Linked DNA regions of Homo sapiens. The protein of the gene in region 5 purifies or fractionates together with the protein of the main gene of each other region. This does not show direct contact. Each region holds a gene or a part of one and is shown on either strand. Other genes may lie near its edges. The genes, in order: SATB1, PEX7, PAPOLA, DNAJB4, PLPBP, MOB2 and ASRGL1.

Region 1 (3,500 bases), on a different chromosome or scaffold from region 5:
CTCCTACAATTAAACTGCATTTTTAGAATACATCCAAAACAAAACAAAACAAAACCAAAAAGCATTTGAGCAGGAAGTGAATTTACTGTACTTTTAGTTTTCCTCCTCCTGTCCTGATATCTTCAAAGAGTTGGGTAAGTACAACAAAAATGTACACATTCATTTTTCCTTTTGTAGGATGAATCAGATGTATTCTACAATATGCTTTTCCTTAGATCTATGAAATAACTGCAGGGTTTTCAAACTATTGAAATATATTGGATTTATTGTGGATTTTATTGATCATGTTTAGAGGTACCCTAAAATAATAAAGACGGCTATAAAGTGACAATAGTACTATCTAATTACAGACCTTCTAGCAAACTGTTGCGGTTACCCTCCCGTTTCTGGGAGTAATGCTGAACACAAGCCTTTTCTGAACTGTATGATTATTCGTGCTAGTGTTTGGCGAGAGTTCCAACTACAGCAACTTCATAACCTTCCAGCATTTAAAGGGGAGAGCACTGGTCACTGCTGAATGCTAAAAATACCACATGATTTAAACCTGAAGGCAGTCTTAGAAGCTTTTGCTGAAGGTTTATGAGCCTGTGTAAACAGCACGTCTGCCATAAGGAGCAGTGAAGTCTGTAGAATCCTTGTCTAAAACTGTCCTGGCATTAAAGTTTGCTGTGCAAATATCACATAATACCAGAGACAGCTGAAATCTCCTATTTAGGAATTTATGGAACTTACATGTTTGCAGGCGTCAGAAAGTCTTTTTTATACAGCCCCAGTGCTTCACAGTACAATATTAATGCACTCTGTTTGAAAAGCCGTAATAAATTATATTTTTAATGCTCTTACCCTGGCTTTCTTAAGATGCATACATTCTTGGCAAACAATCAATAAATAGGGTAATCATGAGTAGAGGCCAAAGAATTTGCTGAAGTGCTGTTTTCCCATTTTTAATAGATAAAGATCTAACAATACGGACTGCTGTGTCTGTTCATTTCAGGATCAATATATTCTTTGTTTTCGCCAAACCAAGGAAAAAATAAATGATTGTATGATAAATGTTACGCATCAAACACAATGAAATTCCTCTGCCTTCTAACTTTATCTACTTAATATTCTTGGTTGCTAAAATATAGCATTTTTATCCATTGCTTAGCAAATGTAAGGAAAATCTGATTCCTATACATGTTATTCAGACACAAAATGAAGCTCCTTATGAGGCACATGCATTACACCCAGGGTAGGCACTGCTTTACAGGAACAACACTGTTAAACACAGTCCAAGTTGTTAAACTGCATCAATTTAATATTGGTAGAAAAAAGTCACACAGTTACACATCTTCCCCTTATAAACTTGCCTAAATCTGTTCTTTCTTCATCAAAAATACCCAATTAAAACAAAAATAAAAAACTAGAATCATCAGATTTTTTACTGCTAATGAATTTGCTCTTAAGAAAATAAGCCACAAAAAATAACATTACCAAACTTCTACATAAGATGTCCAAGATCTCTGAAACTGCCCTACAACTAAGAATCTTAGGAAGAAGCTAGGGTAACTCTCAAATCACCTAAGTGTTTTATTCTTAATCAGGTTAGTTTGAAGAAACAGCTGCCTACAATCCTCGACTACAACACCTTTTGAATGGACCCTGCCAAAACTAAAACCATTATATTTAATTCAGTCCTTATTACCCAAAATGTTCCATGATTCCAGTCTACAGTAGAACGCTCCACCCAAGCATGGAGGCTATACTTTCCAACGTGATTGATACTAAGGACCCAGAATGTAACTAATGTACGATCATAAGGAGAATAAAGGCAGAGTATACAAAACATGTTCTGCCACTCCACCCCCACACAGTGTGGCCTTGTGTAGACAACAGGGCTTTCAGCTTTTCAAGATTTGGCTTGAAGGTATTTACCTTTCCTAAGGTTGGTTTTCATCAGATGGCCCGAGTGTTTTAAAGGCACTCCCTGCATTTTTGCACCTGTACTCCCAAGCCTTCCTCTTCCTAGCGGGCTCCCGTTCTGCTCCAGGCGGGCAATCTTGGCTGGTGGACCCTTCGGATCACTCACATTGTTAGACATTTCTGAATGTTCTTTCCCCTGAGTTGCCTCGTTCAAATGATCCATACTCAGTCACTGTCTAAAGATCACCTGCCAGAATTTAAAAAGAAGACACGTTATAGTTGGGCGGGGACCTACGTGTATATATGTGTCCTATGTAAATGTTTTAGCTCTAGATATCTCTCCACAAATATAATGTATTTGTAAAATGGCCTATCTAGATATGATACAGATGTTACTATATTTCTAGATGATAGCATTACATTCTTATTCAAATTAACAAAATGATCTGTGGAAACTGTACCAATACACATGAATAAAAAGATAACTGGCCTATAAAAAAACTAAGTGGGGAAAAATGGGCTTACTTTTAGAACAAGAATTATTACAAGTATAGCTAAAAAGAAAACAGCAAATTGCATTTACGTAGTCCCAATTTTTAACAATTAGAAACACATTACAAAATACAGCAGAAACACTTTAATAAAGGATGGAAAGATGATCATAGTTCAAAATATTAGAAATCTAATGTATATGTTTTATATGTATACATTTTATATGTGTATGTATATTAATTCTTATGAAAAAAACATAAACCATCTCAAAAGAAGGTAACAAACATCTAACTGCTTTTTAAACTCCCCATTGGCTTTTGTAAATTAATGCATAGAAAAAGTTTTCTACTATCAAAGTTCCAAGAGTTATGTGACAGACCTAGTCAAGTTTTGGGCCAAAGATGTGATTGGATCAGTTTACCCCTAAAGAAACAGGAAGAAGTGAAGGGTTTTCAAATATCCAACGTACTGATGCATTAAAACTCATGTGTTTTAGAGTCAGTATTTAGGTGTCCATTAGTAATAGAGGGCTGTTAACAATAAATATTTTTAAAAAATTGAATACACTTCGTGATATGCACATTAGGTTGAAGTGCCAAGCTCAATTAAAAAAAAAAAAAACACAAACAAAAAACCTTGATGATACTGGTAAAACAAAATATCCAGTATTCAGAAATAACCTCAGCATGCAATGGCATTAACATTGTAATTAACTTCAAAAAAATTAACAGATAATTATTTTCAGTTATATATTAGACATCAATTTTCCCATCATTTATAGTAAAGTGATTAGACAATATCAAAGTCATTTTTAAAGTATAGTTTTAATTAGAATTGATAAGAACAGGTAAGTAGAATTATTTTATGAACTTTGATGGTATTTGAAGTATTGAGCTTATGAAACTAAGGGGATCATATTTAGGAAAACCAGAGAGAATAATTACCATTTTTCCTAGCTGTCTAGTAATTTGATATAGCTTGTTTTTGTTGTAAATTCTTACACTGGAGCTATTTAAATCTGGATTTGTTGAAAGCCAGTTTGTATTAGCATGGCTTTTCTGTAAATATTTTTTCTTCTGTTTAACCATAGCCTACTTCTTACC
Region 2 (3,500 bases), on a different chromosome or scaffold from region 5:
GTTCAAGCAATTCCACCTCAGCCTCCCAAGTAGCTGGGATTACAGGCACCTGCCATCATGCGTGGCTAATTTTTCTATTTTTAGTAGAGACAGGGTTTCACCATGTTGGCCAGGCTGGTCTTGAACCCTTAACCTCAGGTGATCTGCCCACCTTGGCCTCCCAAAGTGCTGGGAATACAGGCATGAGCCACTGTGTCCACCCACTTTACAGACACCTCTACGAATAAATTTGAAAACCTAAAAGCAAGGGACAATTTCCAAACTTGATCCCGTTAGAGATACAAAGTTTAAACAGACTCACTTCCATGAAAGAAATGAAGTTATCAAGAAAGTACTCCACAAAAAGCACCATGCTCCACTAGTTTTGCAGAGCAATCCTACAAAGGATTCAAAGACCAAATAGCCTCAATGCTGTACAAGTTGTTCCAGAGCTTTGGAAACAAAGGAAAATTTCTTAATTCTTTTTATGAAGCAAGTAAAACACAGACACATTAAACAAAACGAGAAAAGAAAGAAAACTGCAACTAATATCACCTTTGAATATTGACGCAAAAGCTTTAAATAAAATATTAGCAAACACAATTCAACACCATGGTGAGAAAATGATACACAAAGAACGTGAGAGACTTACTCCAGGAATGCAAGGTTGGTTCAATCCATTAATATAATACATCATAGCCATATCTCTAAGAAGAAAAATCATGATTATCTCCATAAATGCTGGGAAAAAAAGCCTTCAACAAAACTTAAGACCCATTCCTAATTAAAAAAACTCAAGAAAATAGGAATTCATGCATACTTTCTTAGTATGACAAACAAGTAAACATATATAATTTGCATTAAAGTCAGAATCTTATTTTTAATAGAGAAACACTAAAGGCGTTTGTACTCATATCAGGAATCAGACATTCTCTATAAACTATTTAGCACTGTATTAGTGGTATTTGTGGAGGGAATTTTAAGAAAAATCAATTAGAGGCATCAGAATTGGAAATGAAGGTGTAGAACCACCTTTATTTGCAGGTGATAAGATCATACATCTGGAAAACCTTAATGAATCAATGATCTTTAGAAGGCAGAGAAACAGGTACTCTCAAACATTGCTACTGAGTATCAAAATTGGCATATTCCTTATGGATGGGAATTTGGTAATATCTAACAAAACTACATATGTTTACCTTTTAACTCAGCAATCCCACTTCTAGGAATACCAGACATTAATTCTCTAGTAACACAAAGCTATCATTCACTGTGGCACTGTTTATTTACAAAACATTGAAAACAAGCTAAATGTCCATAGATAGGAGGGTAGCCAAATAAACTATAGCACATCCACACAATGGTGTATTATGCAGAATGAGAATGATCTCTTTGATACAGAATGATTTCCAGGATATATTTTAGTGAAAATCCTGGAAACCTTTCTGAATATATCTTTATGTACATCTTGACTTTTGAAACCATGTCAATGTTTTGCCTAGACAAAATCAACAAGGATGGGAGGAAAACCCTAAAATTGAATACAAACAGAAACAAAGGAATCAAACCATGTTTCAAGTGAATAACATAACCACACTCTAACAGAGAAGAGGAGAATTAACCTAAGTAACTTCTGAATATAGTATTCAAACTAAAGACAAAAAAAACTCTAAGCAAGTGCTGAGCTCTAATTAGTAAGATTGTTTTTTTCAAAGGTATGGCTTTGCAATTCTGAACTACTTTCTAAGCATTACAGGGTTTAACACATAAGAAAATATATTGTGAATAAAATGGAAGTCAAGAGTTACAAATTTGGAAAGGGAAAATAAATCCTCTGTGGTATGGAACTGTAACTGGAAGTATAAATAGAGACCCACACCCACACACACTCTTATCTAGATATCCATGCACATATATACACATACATGTTCATATATCTACATTCACAAAAAATCATACACTCATGTTCATTGTTTTTTCATCTAAGCAATCTTAGCCTTACGACTCATATAATTAGACCTGAAGAAATGCAATTTCCAAATTTCTATATCTAAATTTAGAATATATTGGCTATGCCATCTATAGTGTAGGAAAGTGTTACCATAGGAACATCTATTAGAAAAGATGGCTTTTAAACAGAATAGCCAGGCTAATATTTGAAGAGAAAAAATTTACTCATATATGTGACTGGATCACGAAAACAGGAAAAATATAATATTAATCCTAGTAAATATTTAAATGTACCCATCTCAGATTATTTTCATGTTAGTAAGAGTAATCATATTATCTCTTATAAAAGTTGCAAAGATGCAAATGTTACCTGGTATTTCACAATGAAATGTATTAAAAACCACTGTACCTTACAGTAAAATCATACGAGCAAGAGGCCAGCACAGAAGCATGAAATGGTGAAAACTACAAAAAAAAAAAGAAAAAAAAAACCCTTTTTGAAGTCAGCTGTGATTATAACACTGCTTTCTATGATCATTCCATAAACATTATAATAAATTTAAGTTGAGTCAGAGCTGTCACTTAAAATTATGCTTTTTCAAAGCATATATGCTATAATTTGAGGCAAAAATCTTCTGGCCTTATAAGTATCCATCTTCAGGAAAAATATTTTTACATTCTCCAAAGAAAATTATCCCTCAAGCTTTTTAGAACTTATTTAGAATAAAATATTCCCAAAATGTTGCTATTCTGGAAAAATTAAATACAATTTCATATTGGCTATCCAAAAATGATTCTTACAGGCCAGATGCAGCAGCTCACACCTGTAATCCCAGCACCTTGGGAGGCTCAGGAGGGCAGATCACCTCAGGTCAGGAGCTCGAGACCAGCCTGGCCAACATGGTGAAACCCCGCCTGTACTAAAAATACAAAAGTTAGATGGGCATGGTGGCACATATGCCTATAATCTCAGCTTCTGGGGAAGCTGAAGCAGGTGAATTGCTTTAACCCAGAAGGTGGAGGTTGCAGTGAGCCGAGATCATGCCACTGCACTCCAGCCCCGGCGACAGAGAGAGACTCTGGCTCAAAAAAAGCAAAAGCAAACAAAGTAATAAACAAAAATGATTCTTACAAATATAAGGGATTTAAGTATATAAGAGTACAAATATATAATTATATAATTTACCAATTTTACAAATATATGATTGCTATAATCACGTTATCAAAATAAACATTTAAATGTTAAATAAAAACACCCTTAAGTTATTTTTACGTTATTTGTATATTACAGCTAATGGAAAATTATATCAAGGGTAAAAAGCAAGTTTAAAGACAAGTAACGTCTTCTAGATGAGTAATAATGTACTTAATAAGTTGACCTTTGCAATTACATTTCTTCAGTGTTTGTCTTATCGCACTTTAATAGTTAAATACACATATATAACTACATTTGACCAGCACTTAGTTTGCAAAGTACTTTCACTACATTACCTTATTTCATTCTCATAATCACTCTAAAATATACATAGAGCATATTTTTCAACTGCTAAAACTTGTCCAATTAAACAAAT
Region 3 (3,500 bases), on a different chromosome or scaffold from region 5:
AGGCATCGTAAGTAATCTGGGGGATTTAAAGTACTATACAATACCCGTTTTTCATTCTCATTTACCATCTTAAGAGTGACAAAATTCATCAGATTACTTTTAGTTAATAGCAGCTATTTCCAAAAAAAAAAAAAAGAAAGAAAAAGTCTTCAGAGAATAAGCTAAATAATAAAATAATAAAATAATTTTTCACCATTCTTAATCAAAACATAATAGAATCCATGAGAAATCTAGAGGGGTTTTTTTTCCACTCTAAAGAAATTGTGTTGTAGTAAGTAAATTACTAAATACATTCTTAGCAAAAAAAAAAAACACAATGAAATTGGTGCTTTTAGACTGTCATCTCTGGGGCAATTGCAAATGCCTCACTGATTGGAAAACAACATGAAAGTGACTCGAGGGAGAAATAAAATTGTGTAACAAGACTACCTCTATTTTAAGACTCATACGAAATCAATGTACAGTTTTAATGGTTTTCCCAAAACTAAGACTGTAACAATTATAAACCAGGTAGTATAAAAGGTTAATACCAGCTTGCAAAGCATAGTGGTTCCTGTGACCTCAACACTTTGGGAGACCAAGACAGGAGGATCGCTTGAGCCCAGGAGCTGGAGACAAGCCTGGATAACATAGCAAGACTCTGTCTTTACAAAAAAATCTTTTTTTAAATTAGGCAGGCATGGTGGTGCGCACCTGTAGTCCCAGCTACTTGGGAGGCTGAGGTGGGAGGATTGCTTGAGCCCGGGAGGCAGAGGTTGCAGTGAGCTGAGATTGCTCCACTGCACTCCAACCTGGGCAAAAGAGCCAGCCCCTGTCTCAAAACAAAAAACAAAAAATTAAGCTGGAAATGGTGGCATGCACCTGTGGGTCTAGCTACCTGGGAGGCAGAAGGATCGCCTGTGCCCAGGAGTTAAAAAACAAAAATGCAAATGATGCTAGAAAGTTTCTTTAAGGGTTAGAGAGCTAACCATTTAAGGTTCAAAAACTAATCTGGCTGCATGCACTTATCATTCAGTAAGAAGTCCCTGAGAACCTCTGGTATTTGATGGTCCTATAACACCAAGTACAGTAGAGAAACTCCAAAACTCCTTTTGGATCACAGAAGCAAAAAACTGTCCAAAGGACCATCAAAAAATCAGTACAAATAAAAGGTAGTCATTAGAGAATAATAAGTTAAGAATACATGTAATTTCATGTTAAATTCTGTTGTAGACAATACCTGCTAACTACACACACTAAAGAAGTTTAAATGAGAGGGCATAGCTTTATAGCAGAGGTAGTTACTGAGAAGAATGGGAAAGGTGAAGAGAAACTACAGCACTAAAGCACTACAGACACACCTAAAATTTTCTAAAAGCTTTGTTCCTTGATCCTTCTCTATTTTGGTTCATAAACTTTTCTTCCACTGGATTTAAAAATAGGCAGTTGGTGTTGCCATGGCTAACTAATATGTTTTTCATATATATACCTCTTCTGTTTTGGTTTTCTTGGGACTCTCTTCTTTATGAGGTGAGGATGTCCTCTTGACTCCTACTATAGGAGTAGGTATTTTTGTTGCTGCATTTCCTGAAGTTGCTGCATTTCCTGAAGATCTAGGTGGTGGGTTTACCAGACGTGTTGAAGAAACAACTCTGGAGACCGTAGGCTTTGGTGGTGGAGAAATGGCTGGTTGTGTGGCAGTTTGAGGAATGCTTTCACTCGATGTACCTAAGCAGCAAATATATGAGTATATACAAATTAAAATAACCAAATCAGTATCAAGTTGTAAGTTTTTGTTTCTCTGAATTTGATTTCATGAATAACTTTACATGCAAAAAATAAACTGGCATTTAAAAAACTGAATTTCAACTACTTAACAAACCCACTTTTCAAAATGAAGGCTAAACCAAATATAATGTAAGAATTCTCAAACCTGACAAACCCAATCTCCTTACCCCCTGAGCTTTCACTGGAATTTACTTGTGGCACAGAAACTTCAGTAGCCTGTATGTTGGTCACAGATGCTGCTGTTACAGCTGGAGCAGGACTGTTTCTGCTAAAAAAAAAAAAATTAAAAATTGTCTCAAAATTTAAAAATAGAAAAATAAAAAAAAAATTACAATAATCTATAACATATATAGAAATTATTTTGTAAAGTAAATGATTCTTTGGTTTTACTTCCTATACATACAATTTAGCAACTGACTTTATTGGATAAAGTATAACAACAGTAAATAGTACACAAACCTTCTAAAGCAGCACTGTCTAATGTTACTTCCTGAGATGACAGAATGTTCTATATCTGTGCTACTGGACATGGTAGCCACTATTAAAACATAGCTACTCTGCACTTAAAATATGACTAGTGAGAAACTATTTAATTTTAATTAAATTTAAATTGTCACATATGGCGGCTGGCTACTATATCGCCAGAGTGGTTCTAAAAGATCTATTCTTAGCTAATTTTGGCTAAGAGACTTAACTGAAGGATTTTTTCGAACAAAAATCCTTTAAAAAGTTATTAATAAGAGGCCAGGCATGGTGGCTCACGCCTGTAACCCTAGCACTCTGGGAGGTGAGGTGGAAGGATTGCTTGAGCTCAAGTCTGAAACTAGCCCGGACAACACAGTGAGCCCTCGTCTCTACAAGAAAAAAAAAAAAAAACCTATATTATTAAAAAAAAAAAAAGTTATGAATGAGCAAATGTTCTGAGAAACAGAAAACAGAAATAAACTTCTGTATACAAAGTATAAGAGTTTTATAAAACCCTAAAAGCCCATCCAGTGGCCCAGTTAAAGACCTTTAAGTGACAAGGGGATTATTTCAATATCTTACTTTTAAAATAACTTATTTTAAACCCTCTTTACTCCCCCGAAGTTTCTCTCTCATTTTCTCTTTCTCATGCCAATCTCAAATGACCTTCCTACTTAACAACCAACCAAAAGCCACTAGCCAAGTATTACCCCAAATTCTAAGTATAAATATTAAAGAGACACACCTATTTCTATAATTAACCCCTATTCTTTCCTATACAAAGAAATTATTCCTTATTATATAAAAAAGCCCAATCTATGTTCTAAATCTCACTAACTCCTGTCATCTCAAGAAACTCAAATCATCACACTCCTTTACTCTCCCATCCAATTTTCCTGTCTCAAGTAAATCCTACACATTAGCATTTAAATAAATTCACGGTTTTATTACCTCCTAAAAGAAAAACAAAAGCAGAAAAGTCCTCTGGTTTCTCTCTCTGTCTCTATCTGTGTCTGTGTGTGTGTGTGTCTGTCTCTCTTTCTCTCTCTCTCTCTCAGAGCTATCACCCACACTCTGAAACTGGTGAATGATGACACCATGAGGAGGTAGGCAACACTTCGAAGACTTGTTATTTTTGGTACTTACATGACATCCACAGGGAACCACGGAGCAGTCAACTTATTAAAGCTATGGATATCATTGGTATATGAATGTAAATGTAGTCAACAGAGCAGGTGTTACCACTCAGGGACAATATCAAGAGGGGA
Region 4 (3,500 bases), on a different chromosome or scaffold from region 5:
TACAGCTCAAGTATACAAGATAATAATAGAGCAAACTGGGCCAGGTGCGGTGGCTCATGCCTATAGTCCCAGCACTTTGGGAGGCCGAGGTGGGCGGATTACTTGAGGTCAAGAGTTCAAGACGAGCCTGGCCAACATGGTGAAAACCTATCGCTACTAAAAATATGAAAATCAGCTGGGCATGGTGGCGGGCACCTGTAATCCCAGCTACTCAGGAACCTGAGGCAGGAGAATTACTTGAACCTGGGAGGTGGAGGCTGCAGTACTAGCTGAGATTGTGCCACTGCACTCCAGCATGGGTGACAGAGCGAGACTCCATCTCAAAAAAATAATAATAATAATAATAGAGCAAACTTGGGGAAGTGCATATACATTTTATGGGTAGACATCAGATTTAAAATGACTTATTTTAAGCTAAAGAGTTTGGACTTTATGGTAGAGGTTATATAGAGCAATTTAAGAATTTGAAGCAGGGAACTGCTATGACCATATTTGCAAAGTTACAATCCAATTTGAGAAATAGTACAAATAGGCCAGGCGTGGTGGCTCATGCCTGTAATCCTAGCACTTTGGGAGGCCAAGGCAAGTGGATCACCTGAGGTCAGGAATTCAAGACCAGCCTGGCCAACATGGTAAAACCCTGTGTCTACTAAAAATACAAAAATTAGCCAGGTGTGGTGGGGGGCGCCTGTAATCCCAGCTACTTAGGAGGCCGAGGCAAGAGAATCACTTGAACCCGGAGGCAGAGGTTGCAGTGAGCCGAGATTGCGCTGTGGGTGACAGAGCAAGACTCTGTCTCAAAAAAAAAAAAGAAATAGTGCAAATAAGAACTCAAATAATAATTGTATTAACATAGTAGCATTATAATTTATAAATGTATATATTTATATGCACTTATAAATGTATTTTTTATTAATATAAATGTATACAAATTTGTAGTGAATTATAAATTATTTTCTTCTAATCTTTTTTGGTATGCAATTATTACTCCATATTAACAAATTTAGAACAAACCCTATATACAAAGACTAATGTGTTGAGATTACCAATGCAGATCTCATAAACCACATTTGTAAAAGCAGCCTCATAGTACATAATCCAGTTAACACTTGACACTTTAATTATAAGTAACTAAAGTTAGAAAATATAATCACATCCATAAAAGAGGTATAATACTAGTACTATCTTAGAGGATTTTTATAGTAATTATTTTTAACGTATAATAGGCATTAAATAAATGTTAGCTATTATCTAGATACACTCCCTATGATCAACTACATAATTATTTGGTCTTAGGATTTTAGGTCCTACCAACTTACCTCTCGTAAACTAATTTTAGCAGTATAAATTATATTTGATCCATCCCTTTTAAATTTTGGATGATCTTTGTCTTTAATGATAAAAACAATGTCTGCTGGAATACTATTTGGTGTTTCATCTCCTTCTCTTGGAAAAGTAATTTTGGTGCCTTCTTTCCACCCTTTTTTAATCTCAATGGTAAGAATTTTGTCCTCAGATCTGTAACTCCTTCCATCAGCGTTTAGCCTTTTTCGAGAAATCTTCATCCGTTTGGTACAACCACTATATATCTCTTCAAGTGATACTCTAAGTTCATGAATAACTGGAGGATCTTGTTTGAGGCGGGATGGCCCCACAGAATTCCTGTCTCTTGGATATCCATTCATGCTGAAACCAAAGGCACTAAAAGGATCACCATCTATTTCCATTTCTTCAGAATCTCTACCACCACCCATTCGTCTTCCAAAGAAAATTTCAAAGGGGTTGGACCCTCCGAAAAATGCAGCAAATGTAGCATGAGGATCGCCATGAAAGGTGTACCGGAAGGTACCTCCTTGTCCATCAGTACCTCCTGCTCCTCCTTTCAACCCTAATTGAAGAGATAAGCATGATTAGAAAAAAGCTTGCAACTCTTAAAAGTTAAACTTTCAAAAACTGTATTGCTAATAAATTTTGGCTAACTTACATTAAAATGTATTAATATTGGCCAGAAATGCCACTTTACTAAATACAGAACAGCTATAAAACTCTTGATGATTACATCCTAAGTTAAATTGTTAAGTTTTCAAATTCTTCCTCCAAATCAGCATTTTTGTTTGTTTGTGTTTTTGAGACAGAGTTTCGCTCTTGTTTGCCCAGGCTGGAGTGCAATGGCGCAATCTTGGCTCACCGCAACCTCCGCCTCCCAGGTTCAAACAATTCTCCTGCCTCAGCCTCCCGAGTAGCTGGGATTACAGGCATGTGCCACCACGCCCGGCTAATTTTGTATTTTTAGTAGAGACGAGGTTTCTTCATGTTGGTCAGGCTGGTCTCGAACTCCCAACCTCAGGTGATCTGCCTGCCTTGGCCTCCCAAAGTGCTGAAATTACAAGTGTGAGCCACTGCTTCCGGCCAAATCAGCATCTCTAATATTTATTCCTGATTCTTTGTTCCACGGGTAAGTAAGAAAAATAAAATAAGGCCGGGCGCAGAGGCTCATGCCTGTAATCCCAACACTTTGGGAGGCCGAGGCAAGCAGATCATGAGGTCAGGAGTTTGAGACCAGCCTGGCCAACACAGTGAAACCCCGCCTCCACTAAAAATACAAAAAATTAGCCAGGTGTGGTGGCAGGTGCCTGTAATACTAGCTACTCAGGAGGCTGAGGCAGGAGAATCACTTGAACCTGGGAGGCAGAAGTTGCAGCGAGCTGAGATCGCACCACTGCACACCAGCCCGGGCAACAGTGTGAGACTCTGTCTCAAAAAAAAAAAAAAAAAAAAAGAAAAGAAAAGAAAAAGAAAATAAAACTGGGAACTCCTTATAAACTACTGATCTGGCATGCTGAAGTATATAAATTATATAAGTATCTACTTATAAATATATAAGTTTTTAAAAGATGTCAGTTGGAAGGTCTTCAGCAATCAACACAAAGTGCAGAACTTAAATCTTTAATTTTTATTACAATCAAACAATATATATAACATTTAAAAATATAAATATATTAATAAAATATATAGCAAAATATAAAATACCATATTCATACTGTTTATATATAAATAAAATAGAAATATGTAAAAATATAATGTAATAAAAATACCATATTCATTCTAACTAGTTTTATTTCAGATCATCTTTTACTGTTTAGGAATTAAAATAGGGCCAGGTGCAGTGGCTCACACCTGTAATCCCAGCACTTTGGGAGGCCGAGTCGGGTGGATCACTTGAGATCAGGAGTTCGAGACCAGCCTGGTCTACATGGTGAAACCCCGTCTCTACTATAAATACAAAATTAGCTGGGCATGGTGGCACATGCCTATAATCCCAGCTACTTGGGAGGCTGAGGCAGGAGAATCGCTTGAACCTGGGAGGCAGAGGTTACAGTGAGCCAAGACTGCACCATTGCACTCCGGCCTGGGCAACAGGAGCAAAACTCCATCTCAAAAAAAAAAAAAAAAGAATTAAAATAGAACTCTGTGTCAGAGAGTGAAAAAAATTCTAATAA
Region 5 (3,500 bases):
ACTGGGTACCTTACTGCCATCCCAAGGCATTTCCAAGGCTTCTACAGCAAAGATCTGCTCTTGTGTCAGCCTCTCAGACCCCCTACCCCCACCCCTCGAGGCAGACAGGGCACTGGCAGGACACTCACCGCATGCTGGAAATCCGCGGACATGCCCATGCTCAGCTCAACCTGGTCAGCAGGGATGTTCAGCTTTTTACACAGCTCCTCCCGGAGGGACAATAACAGCTGACAGAAAGAGATGACACCTATTTTACTCCTGCCTTCTCTAACGATGCCCAAAAGTGTCTGAATCTGAACTTCTCTGACAACGGTTATGTATTCCTTATGATTTCAAGGCCTGCCAAAATTGCCAGACGTTACTGAAAGGGTTTTTTGCAAACTATCCCACTTTCGAGAAAACTATTAGTCACTGGAGAGGAAGAAATCTCATATTCTCTAAAGACTATGTTTTAGCCAAGTTCAAGTTGAGTTGAAAAAGGTTTGTGGGGCTTTGGAAACCTGTTCTTCCCTTTTCCTTCTGAGAAGAGTTCAAAAGAGGGCTAGAACACTCAACAGGCAGTGTCTGGGATGACTCTGCAATCCCCACTGCAGCCAGCCCTGCAATAGCACTCCAGCACCCTGCTTCTTTAGCACACGAGCAATCTCCCCGACCCCCCAGTACCTGGAAGTCTGGATTTGGTCCTTGACTAAGATCATGCCCAAAGCTTCCTATGGTCATCAGCCCCACAAACTCCAGGTTAGGACACTTGGCGTTTATGTGCTCCACGATGGCTATGGTCTCTGAAGGTGGAAGGCCATGTTTACCTTCAAGAAAAGAAACAGAAAACAGGTATACTGCAAGGGTAAATGGCCAGAGGAAGGCTCCATTTTCCTCCCTTCCTTACGACAGAAGAGGTGACCCCCAACAAGAGAACCTCTTGAAAGAGCCTCAAGTCCTAAAGAGTAACTTTATACTTGGGGTTTTCTATGTTGCTCTGCTTCTGGTCAGGTTCTAAATTTCTCAAGAAAAGAACTATCAGTTGGATTCTCTTTCCTCCATCTCAGGATTTCAGCTGAAAACAGCTAGGAGACATGGAAAAGAAAAAATCTTGCTTTTTTGGGATACCAGGAAGATTTGCATTGCCAAAATGCCAGATGAACCTGAGAATTACTTTTCTAAATCAAGAATTTTTATAGTTTTATTAATTTAATGGAGTTGCAAAAAATTTAGTATAAAGTACATGTTAAATATTTTTGGCTATATATTAGCAAAGTTTAACTGAACTTTCTAATTAACAACTGGAAGAGAAATCTGCAGCAAGCAATTATTTGTTATACAGTTATAAGAGCTATTGATATTGTCTTGCCCCCATTTATTAGGCGGAGATACTAGTAACATTTACTTCAGTCTTTAAATAGGGCATATTATAGCTAATTATCAAGAAATGATACAATAAAGACTTGACCTATAGTTGATTTCAGATTTCTATTGATAATTGGGATTTAAACCCAGGTAGTCTGACTCTAGGACGTTATCTAGAAAACAGATGCCTCTACTGTGTTCCTGCATACTAAGATTTGGTGAATACTGGTGCTTTGATGGTTGCAATCAAATGCCTGATCTGTATACATTTATTCTTAACGAATAGCTAACAACATGTGTAGGGTTCTGTGCTAACAATGTTGCCTGGATTATCATATTCAGTCCTAACCACACCCTCTGAAGTAAGCATTCTCATGATACCATTGCCAAAAAAGGAAACTGAAGTACAGAGAGATTAGGTAACTTATCCAAGGTTACAATACTGGAAAGTAGTGTAGCTGAAACCCAAGGTCTGTCTGATTTCAAAGCCCATGCTTCTATTCACACTATGTTACACTGTTAATCCAAGCCCCATAAAGATATTCATTGACTGGTGCTCACCATAATTTTTTATTTATTTATTTTTTTTTGAGATGGAGTCTAACTCTGTCGCCCAGGCTGGAGTGCAGTGGCGCGATCTCGGATCACTGCAATATTCACCTCCTGGGTTCGAGGGATCCTCCTGCCTCAGCATCCCGAGCAGCTGGGGCTATGGGTGCACACCATCATGCCTGGCTAATTTTTGTATGTATGGTAGAGATGAAGTTTCATCATGTTGGCTAGGCTGGTATCGAATTTCTGACCTCAGGTGATCCACCTGCCTCAGCCTTCCCAAGTGCTGGGATTACAGGTGTAAGCCACCGCACCTGGCCCACTCACAGTAATTATCTTCCATTCTCTCCCAATGCAACATCAAGTAATTTTTTTAAGATCTAAGAGTATTTATATAATCTTAGGTCTTAAAAATTTAAAATACTCCTTGTAGGAGTGATGGTGACCTTTGGGGGTTTCCAGATGAAAGACACAATCCCAGGCCGGGTGCAGTGGCTCATGTCTTTAATCTCAGCACTTTGGGAGGCTGAGGTGGGTGGATCACCTGAGGTCAAGAGTTCAAGACCAGCCTGACCAATATGGCGAAACTCCGTCTCTACTAAAAATACAAATATTAGCTGGGCGTGGTAGCGCGTGCCTGTAATCCCAGCTACTCGGGAGGCTGAGGCAGGAGAATCGCTTCAACCCAGGAGGCGGAGGTTGCAGTGAGCTGAGATCGTGCCACTGCACTCCAGCCTGGCGACAGAGTGAGGCTCTGTCTCAAAAAAAAAAAAAAAAAAGGCTGAGTGTGGTGGCTCACGCCTGTAATCCCAGCACTTTGGGAGGCCGAGATGGGTGGATCACTTGAGAGGTCATGAGCTCGAGAGCAGTCTGGCCAATATGGTGAAACCCCATCGCTATTACAAATACAAAAATTAGCCAGGCGTGGTGGTGCACGCCTGTAGTCCCAGCTACTTGGGAGGCTGAGGTGGGAGAATTGCTTCAACCCGGGAGGCGGAGGTTGCAGTGAGCCGAGATCGCACCATTGCACTCCAGCCTGGGCGACATAGCAAGACTCCATCTCAAAAAAAAAACAAAAATACAAAACGAAGTCACAATCCCCTTCTTGAACTCCCCATCCATTCTTCTTCCCCTAAAATTAAGATATAATGAACCATGATGTAGTAAAGAATGATACATAGACTGCTTTGCATGCCATTATGCTACCTAGATCACACATAAAACAGCCAACTTAGAGGCCTGTGATCCTGTGATTTGTTTCTATAACCTTATCCATCAGACACTTGGGCCCACCCATTCTCCCTAAGCTTCAACCATCCTAAAGGAAGAAAAATCTACAATTCAGGTCTGGTTACTTACTCTCTTCTCCGCTGGTGTTAATCTGGACCATAACCTTTAACCTTTCAGGAGAACCTTTTCTCTGCCAGGAACTGTTCACTTTGTCTGCCAACTTCACAGAATCCACTGTTTCCAGCATGAAGAGATTGGGGACAGCTGTAATGAGACAGAGGCAAAGTAGTATTCCTTATTTGCTCTATTGCAGCAAGTAACATGCAACAAATCTCTGACTTGTTAGAGGAAAAAATATGCCAGGAAAAGAAAAA
Region 6 (3,500 bases), on a different chromosome or scaffold from region 5:
TCCCAGGCTGCAGGCCTCACCGTGGGCATCGCCACCAGGCTGTCAGACCCTCTGAGAATGCAGAGACAACAGTCCTTTCAGCATCTGCTCCTCGAGAATGATGTAGAGGACGCACGTATCCCCACTGTCCTGGGGTTCCCAGATGGTGTAGGGGAGGCCCAGCCCCTAAGGGCCAGGCTGAGGCCCATGTTTCCAGGGCGAGGACCCAGCCAGGATGGCTCAGCACTCTGCAGGAGTCAGACACTGGCTCCAGGTACCCTGACACTGCAAGCTGACATCTGATGCACCTGGCCACAGGTGTGCGACAGGTCTCAAAACAGTGGAGGTTAGAGACGGAAACCCTTTTCCACAATGCAAACCCAGAGAAAGCAGTAACTCAGGGACACTGTGGATTGTCCCATCTGTTCTGAAAGATGGAACACCACTGTTTCCTGTACTTCTTCAATTATCAGTAAACCGTTTCTGGTATATAGTTCTAAGATTTTTATCCACATGTGGACTCACGCATTCATAACCACAATCAGGACACGCGGCGGCTTACGTGGCCCCTCACACCCGTGCTGCTGTGCCCCCAGCACCCCGGGGATGGCTCCTCAGGGATGGGCCGCGGGAAGGAATCGCACCGCGCGGATCCTCCCGATCTGGGCCCCTCTTGCACGGAGGCCCCTGGGATGCAGTCACGTGGCAGACGTGTCGGAAGTCCACGGCTCCTCACTGCCCAGACACTGCCCCTGCAGAGATGGACATGGCGTGCTCATCTATTCACCTGTGTCCCTGCCAGCAGAACAGAGTCCCAGGTGGCCACATCCTGGCCAGCACCAGTGTCCCGACCGGCATGTGGGCAGGTGGACATGGGTCTGCCCATGGTTTCGGCTTGCCTTTCTCTAATTGCTAACAACACAGGATAGCCCCAGCTGCCATCCTTACACCCTCTTTGGCAAACTGTCTGCTCATTTCTTTTGCTGACAGTTAACTGGACTGTTTTGTTTTCTTACTGCTGAGTTGTGTATGTTCTTTATGTATTCTGGATATCAGTCCTTTGTGGGATGTGTGATTTGCAAATGTTTTCTCTCCCAGCCTGGAGTTTGTCTTCTTTCTCTTAAAAGTGTCTTGAAGCAAAAGTTCTGAATTTTGCTGCCTAGTGTCAGGTCATAAGGATTTCCTATGGTTTCTTCCAAAAGCTTTGGAGTTTTAGATGTTTGCACGAGGCATGAGGGATAGGTCAGCGTTTGGTTTTTGACACAAATGACTGCTTTTCCCAGCAGCATTTTTGAACAGACTACCCTTTCTCCCTTGAATTTATTTTGCTCTTTGTCAAAACTCTGATGGCCCCGTTTGTGTGGGTCTATCTCCGGACTCTCCATCCACACGTTTGTGTGGGGCTGTCTCCGGACTCTCCATCCACACGTTTGTGTGGGTCTATCTCCGGACTCTCCATCCACACGTTTGTGTGGGGCTGTCTCCGGACTCTCCGTCCACACGTTTGTGTGGGGCTATCTCTGGACTCTACTGTGTTCCATGGAGCTCTGTATCCATTCCTTCAACACTGCACACTGTCTTAATTACTAGAGTTTCACAGTAAGTCTCAAAAGTGTGAGATTCCTCTTATTTTTTCAAAATCATTGTAGCTATTTCAGTTAATTTGTCCCTCCATATAAATTTTAGAACTAACTGGTCTATACTTGAACTCTGCTGGGATTTGGATTGAGACTGCACTAAATCAACAGATCAGTTTGGGGGAGAATTTGTGTTTGGAGTCATCTTCCAGGTGATAAACGCAGTGCGTCTCTCCATTTATGTAGACCTTCGATTTTCTGTAACAGCATTTCGTAGTTTCCAGGGTGCAGATCCTGGGAATGTCTTGTTAAGTTTATAACTAAGGATCGCATTATTTTTGGAGCTATTATAAATGGCATGTTAAATATTAATTTCAGTTTTAAATTTCACATTGCTAATATACAGACCTATGACTGATTTGTGCGTGTTGACCTCACTAAATTTATATTATTATTTGCTACAATCCTTGAGGTTTTCCCAATCACACGTGTGCACAGGGATACAGCAATCCCCCCCATCCACAGGGGATGCACTGCAAGACCCCCAGGGGATGCCTGAAGCCACAGAGAGCACCAAACCCTATATATGCTGCGCTTTCTCCTATACATACATTACTAAAATAAAGACAGGCAGACTTGATTGATTGACTGAGATAGGGTCTCGCTGTGTTGCTAAGTTAGTCTCGAACTCCTGAAGTGATCCACCGCCTCAGCCTCCTGAGTAGCCAGGATTACAGGTGTGAGCCACCACACCCAGTGTAATTCATAAACTGAGGACAATCAGTTGCAGTGAGTGGCTGGGGTCGCATATCAGGGGGTCCCTTGCTGGCCTCCTGCAGGCTCAATGGCAACACGCTGCTGCTCCCATCCTCTCACCTCCTCCACCCACAGATCCAAGTACTCAACACGCACTGTGGCTGTCACTTTTGCAATTTCAGATGTAACAGCGAAATTAAAGGGACTTTTTTTCCCTTTTTCACAATTTCATAAAGAAGAGATTTGTTCTTACCTTAGATCTTAGCAACCTCACACACAATCTGTTTCTTTCTAGTCAGGAACTTTCACCTTTTCATCTTTAGGTCAAGGAAGTGCTTTCTGTCTTCTCTTTGGCATATCTGAATTGCCAGCATCACGCTCTTGCGCTTTGGGCCGCCTCATGTCACATAAGAGCAACCTGAGCACGAGCACCCTGGCACTGCGGCAGTGGATCCACACGGGGGCCGAGGCACAGCTGGGCCGAGGGAGGAGGAGGCACACCTGGAGCAGGACGGTGGAGACCGCATCACACTGCTCAGAACAGCATGCAGTTGAAAACTTATTAACTGTTTATTTCGGGAATTTTCCATTAACTATTTTCAGACCATAGTTGACTGTGGGTAACGGAAACTGTAGATAAGGGGGGCTTATTGTTTTATTTCTTTTCCAATTTGGATGCCTTTTATTCTTTCTTCTTACCTTATGGCACTGCCTATCTTAGGCGAGTTCTGATATACTGCGCTTTCCAAAGAGTTGGTCCATTTAACCCAAGCCATAGAATTCATGTGCACAGAGGGTTTTTTTCCAATACTTCCTTATTATCCTTTTAACATCCACTGGGTCTACAGTGATACTCCTCTTTACATCCACAGGGTTTAGTGACACTCACTCCTTTTTATTGATCATTGCATCTTCTCTCTTATCTTTGTACCTACTAAAGGCTTACCAATTTATTACCTTTCAAAGTCATCACATTTTGATTTCACTCATTTCCCCTATTGTTTTAAAAATCAATCTCAGTGCTTTCTGTTCTTATTTACTTTCTTGTCCTTGATTTTGACTTATTTTGCTCTTTTTCTAGTTTAAGTTGGAAACGTAGATTACTGAAAGTCATCTTCTTTTTCTAAGAAAGCATTAATCCTATAAATCCCCTCTAGGCACTGCTTGAGTTATGTCTCACAAATTCTG
Region 7 (3,500 bases), on a different chromosome or scaffold from region 5:
TGGGGAGCTGGTTGCCAGGGAACCAATCGTGTAATCAGAGGGCCTGAACTTTCAGTCTCACCCCTCTATCTCCGAGGAAGGGGAGAGAGACTGAAGGGTTAGTTGATAACCAATGGCCAACGATTTAATCAATTGTGCCTATGCCATGAAATGTCAACTAGAGAAAAAAAAATTGAGCTTTTAAATAATTAGTTTTATTTAGAAATCTTACTGAGGACTATAGACTGATGACTATAGTCCAGAGGGGTCCTTCAGAGAGGTGCTGTCAAACTGCTTCAAAACTGTGTCTCCCCTTAGAGCTGATATACAGGTTGTGGAGGGTTAGTACATGCTCAAAGGTTACATGAGACTTCCTCAGAAGTTACATTAAAACAGAATCACATCAAAGTTTGGGTGCAAAAGTGCATCTGGCTATAGATGACAGAGGTATGCATAATCGCTAACCTTGTCAGACGTTATTTTTCTTTTTTTTTTTTTTTGAGACGGAGTCTCACTGTCGCCCCAGGCTGGAGTGCAGTGGTGCCATCTCAGCTCACTGCAACCTCTGTCTCTCAGGTTCAAGTGATTCTCGTGCCTCAGGCTCCCAGGTAGCTGGGATTACAGGCACCCACCACCATGCGAGGCTAATTTTTGTAGTTTTAGTAGAGATGGGGTTTCACCATGTTGCTCAGGCAGGTCTCGAACTCCTGACCTCAGGTGATCTGCCTGCCTCGGCCTCCCAAAGTGCTGGGATTACAGGTGTGAGTCACTGCGCCTGACCCAGATGTTATCTTAAGTGTAGGAAAAGGCAAGACTAGGATCATTTATCGTTTAAGACATACAGTGACTCGGGCAAGAGACATGGGGGCTGTGTGCTCTATCCAATTTTGTCTTCAAATCATTCTTCCAGAAAGCGGCACATCTGCACATCGTCACAGAATCAGGGGCTTCATGAAATGATGTTGGCATGAAGAAATTAGCAAACATGGCTTCTTACGTTTGTTACTCAGTCTCACAGAAGCCTCCATAAAAACCTGTAAGGGCTGATGATGGGAGAGCTTTTGGATTGCTAGGTATGTGAAGGTGCCAGGAGGGTGGTGTGCTGAAGAGGGCAGGGAAGGTCCACACCCCTTCCCCCATACCTTGCCCTATGCATCTCTTCATCTCCCTGTCTGTATCCTCCATTATATCCATTATTCATATAATAAACTGGTAAATATATTTCTCTGAGTTCTGTGAGCTACCCTAGCAAATTAACTGAATTCGAGGAGGGAGTCATGGGAACCCCAATTTATAGCTGGTTGGTCGGAAGTAGAAGTGACAAGCTACTACTCAAGATTGGCATCTGAAGTGGGAAGCAGTCTTACGGGACTGAGCCCTGAACCTGTGGGATTGGACTCTGACCCCAGAGAGGCAGCGTCAGAACTGAACTGACCTCACCCTATGCAACTCTTCATCTGTATCCTTTATCATAGGAGTCCCCAACCCCCAGGTACTGGTACTGGTCTGTGGCCTGTTAGGAACTGGGCCCCACAGCAGGAGGTGAGTGGCAGGCGCATGAGCATTACTACCTGAGCTCCGCCTCCTGTCAGATCAGCAGCAGCATTAGATTCTCATAGGAGTGTGAACCCTGTTGTGAACTGTGCCTGCGAGAGTCTCTGTGGAAACACTGTCTTCCATGAAACTGGTCCCTGGTGCCAAAAAGGTTGGGGACCACGGCTTTATCATATTCTTTATAATAAATTGGTAAACATAAATGTTTTCCAGAGTTCTATGAGCCATCATAGTAAATTATCAAGCCTGAGGAGGGGGTCATGGTAACCCTTGATTTGTAGCCACATTGGACAGAAGTGTGCATAACCAGGGGACTTGCAATATGCCTTTTCAACAATTGGTGCTGGGCCACGGGTGGTGGCTCACGTCTGTTATCCCAGTACTTTGGGAGGCTGAGGCTGGTGGATCACTTGAGGTCAGGAGTTCAAGGCCAGTCTGGCCAACATGGTGAAACCTTGTCTCCCCTAAAAATACAAAAATTAGCCAGGCATGGTGGTGGGCGCCTGTAATCCCAGCTACTCGGGAGGCTGAGGCAGGAGAATTACTTGTACTCGGGAGGTGGAGGTTGCAGTGAGCCAAGATCACGCCACTGCACTCCAGGAAAAAAAGCAAAAAACAAAAAACAACCCTGAGTTCCTCAAAAATCTAAGAATACAGCTACCATGTGATACAGCAATCCCACTGCCGGCTACACACCCAAGAGAAAGGAAATCAGTATATGGAGGAGTTATTTGCACTCCTTGCTTGCTGCAGCATTGTTCACAATAGCCAAGATTCGGAAGCTACCTAGATGTTCATCAACAGATGAATAAAGAAATGATACATATACACAATGGAGTACTACTCAGCCATAAAAAAGAATGAGATTCTGTCATTTGCAACAACATGGATGGAACTGGAGGTCATTATGGTAAGTGAAATAAGTCAGGCACAAAAAGAAAACCTTCACATGTTCTCACTTATTTGTGGGAGCTAGAAGTCAAAGCAATTGAACTCATGAAGATAGAGAGTAAAAAGATGGTTAGCAGAGGCTGGGAGATAGTGGGGGTGGGGCAGAAGTGGGGATAAGTAATGGGTACAAAAAATAGAATGAATATGAGTTAGTATTTGATAGCACAACAGTGACTATAGTCGATAATTTAGCTATACATCTTAAAATAACTAAAAGAATATAATTGTTTATAACACAAAGGATAAATGCTTGAAGGGATGAATATCCCATTTACCCTGATTATTATGCATTGCATGTCTGTATCACAATATCTCACGTACTCCCATAAGTAAATACACCTACTATGTAGCCACAAAAAAAAAAAACCAAAAATGGAATCTTGATATATACCTTGCATCGTATACAAAAATTTATTCAAAGTGAATCACAGACCTAAAACTTCTAGAAGACAACACAAGAAAAATGTTTGCAATGCTGGGTTAGGCAAATATTAAGATACAACACAAAAAGCATGACTGGTTTAAAAAAAAACTGATAAACTGGACTTCTGCAAAGTTGAGAACTTCTGCTTTTTGCAATAAAATATTGAGAAAGAAAAGACAAACCACAGACTGAAAGAAAATATCTGCTGATTTTTCTGCATTGACACATCTGATAAAAGCTATATCTAGAATATATAAACAACTCTTAAAACTCAATAGTAAGAAACAACACCAACAAAAAAATCAGCAAGACTTTGATACTTCACTGAAGAAATATGAACGACAGGCCAAGCGCAGTGGCTCACACCTGTAATCCCAGCCCTTTAGGAGGCTGAGGTGTGTGGATCACGAGGTCAGGAGTTCAAGATCAGCCTGGCCAACATGATGAAACCCCATGTCTACTAAAAATACAAAAATTAGCTGGGTGTGGGGTCACATGCCCTGTAATCCTAGCTACTCAGGAGGTGGAGGTTGCGGTGAGCTGAGATCGCGCCATTTCTCTCCAGCCTGGGCAGCAAGAGTGAGACTCCATC

What was found.
Region 1: the proteins of PLPBP (region 5) and SATB1 purify together in Homo sapiens (affinity purification with mass spectrometry; one large-scale study listed by BioGRID and IntAct). This does not show direct contact.
Region 2: the proteins of PLPBP (region 5) and PEX7 purify together in Homo sapiens (co-immunoprecipitation; one large-scale study listed by IntAct). This does not show direct contact.
Region 3: the proteins of PLPBP (region 5) and PAPOLA fractionate together in Homo sapiens (co-fractionation; one large-scale study listed by BioGRID). This does not show direct contact.
Region 4: the proteins of PLPBP (region 5) and DNAJB4 fractionate together in Homo sapiens (co-fractionation; one large-scale study listed by BioGRID). This does not show direct contact.
Region 6: the proteins of PLPBP (region 5) and MOB2 purify together in Homo sapiens (affinity purification with mass spectrometry, with the first as the bait; one large-scale study listed by BioGRID). This does not show direct contact.
Region 7: the proteins of PLPBP (region 5) and ASRGL1 fractionate together in Homo sapiens (co-fractionation; one large-scale study listed by BioGRID). This does not show direct contact.

Annotation. Positions count from the first base shown.
Region 1 is NC_000003.12:18,418,840-18,422,339, forward strand, and holds part of SATB1 (DNA-binding protein SATB1), read right to left. Parts: intron 2,153-3,500; 5' UTR 2,129-2,152; coding exon 1,918-2,128; intron 1-1,917. UniProt on the Homo sapiens protein: Crucial silencing factor contributing to the initiation of X inactivation mediated by Xist RNA that occurs during embryogenesis and in lymphoma.
Region 2 is NC_000006.12:136,871,092-136,874,591, reverse strand, and holds part of PEX7 (peroxisomal biogenesis factor 7), read right to left. Parts: intron 2,395-3,500; coding exon 2,339-2,394; intron 1-2,338. UniProt on the Homo sapiens protein: Receptor required for the peroxisomal import of proteins containing a C-terminal PTS2-type peroxisomal targeting signal. Specifically binds to cargo proteins containing a PTS2 peroxisomal targeting signal in the cytosol.
Region 3 is NC_000014.9:96,554,382-96,557,881, reverse strand, and holds part of PAPOLA (poly(A) polymerase alpha), read right to left. Parts: intron 2,036-3,500; coding exon 1,935-2,035; intron 1,708-1,934; coding exon 1,469-1,707; intron 1-1,468. UniProt on the Homo sapiens protein: Polymerase that creates the 3'-poly(A) tail of mRNA's. Also required for the endoribonucleolytic cleavage reaction at some polyadenylation sites.
Region 4 is NC_000001.11:78,011,439-78,014,938, reverse strand, and holds part of DNAJB4 (dnaJ homolog subfamily B member 4), read right to left. Parts: intron 1,889-3,500; coding exon 1,320-1,888; intron 1-1,319. UniProt on the Homo sapiens protein: Probable chaperone. Stimulates ATP hydrolysis and the folding of unfolded proteins mediated by HSPA1A/B (in vitro).
Region 5 is NC_000008.11:37,772,645-37,776,144, reverse strand, and holds part of PLPBP (pyridoxal phosphate homeostasis protein), read right to left. Parts: intron 3,391-3,500; coding exon 3,256-3,390; intron 837-3,255; coding exon of another isoform or gene 807-836; coding exon 664-806; intron 228-663; coding exon 129-227; intron 1-128. UniProt on the Homo sapiens protein: Pyridoxal 5'-phosphate (PLP)-binding protein, which may be involved in intracellular homeostatic regulation of pyridoxal 5'-phosphate (PLP), the active form of vitamin B6.
Region 6 is NC_000011.10:1,473,280-1,476,779, forward strand, and holds part of MOB2 (MOB kinase activator 2), read right to left. Parts: intron 1-3,500. UniProt on the Homo sapiens protein: Stimulates the autophosphorylation and kinase activity of STK38 and STK38L.
Region 7 is NC_000011.10:62,343,948-62,347,447, reverse strand, and holds part of ASRGL1 (isoaspartyl peptidase/L-asparaginase), read right to left. Parts: intron 1-3,500. UniProt on the Homo sapiens protein: Has both L-asparaginase and beta-aspartyl peptidase activity. May be involved in the production of L-aspartate, which can act as an excitatory neurotransmitter in some brain regions. Is highly active with L-Asp beta-methyl ester.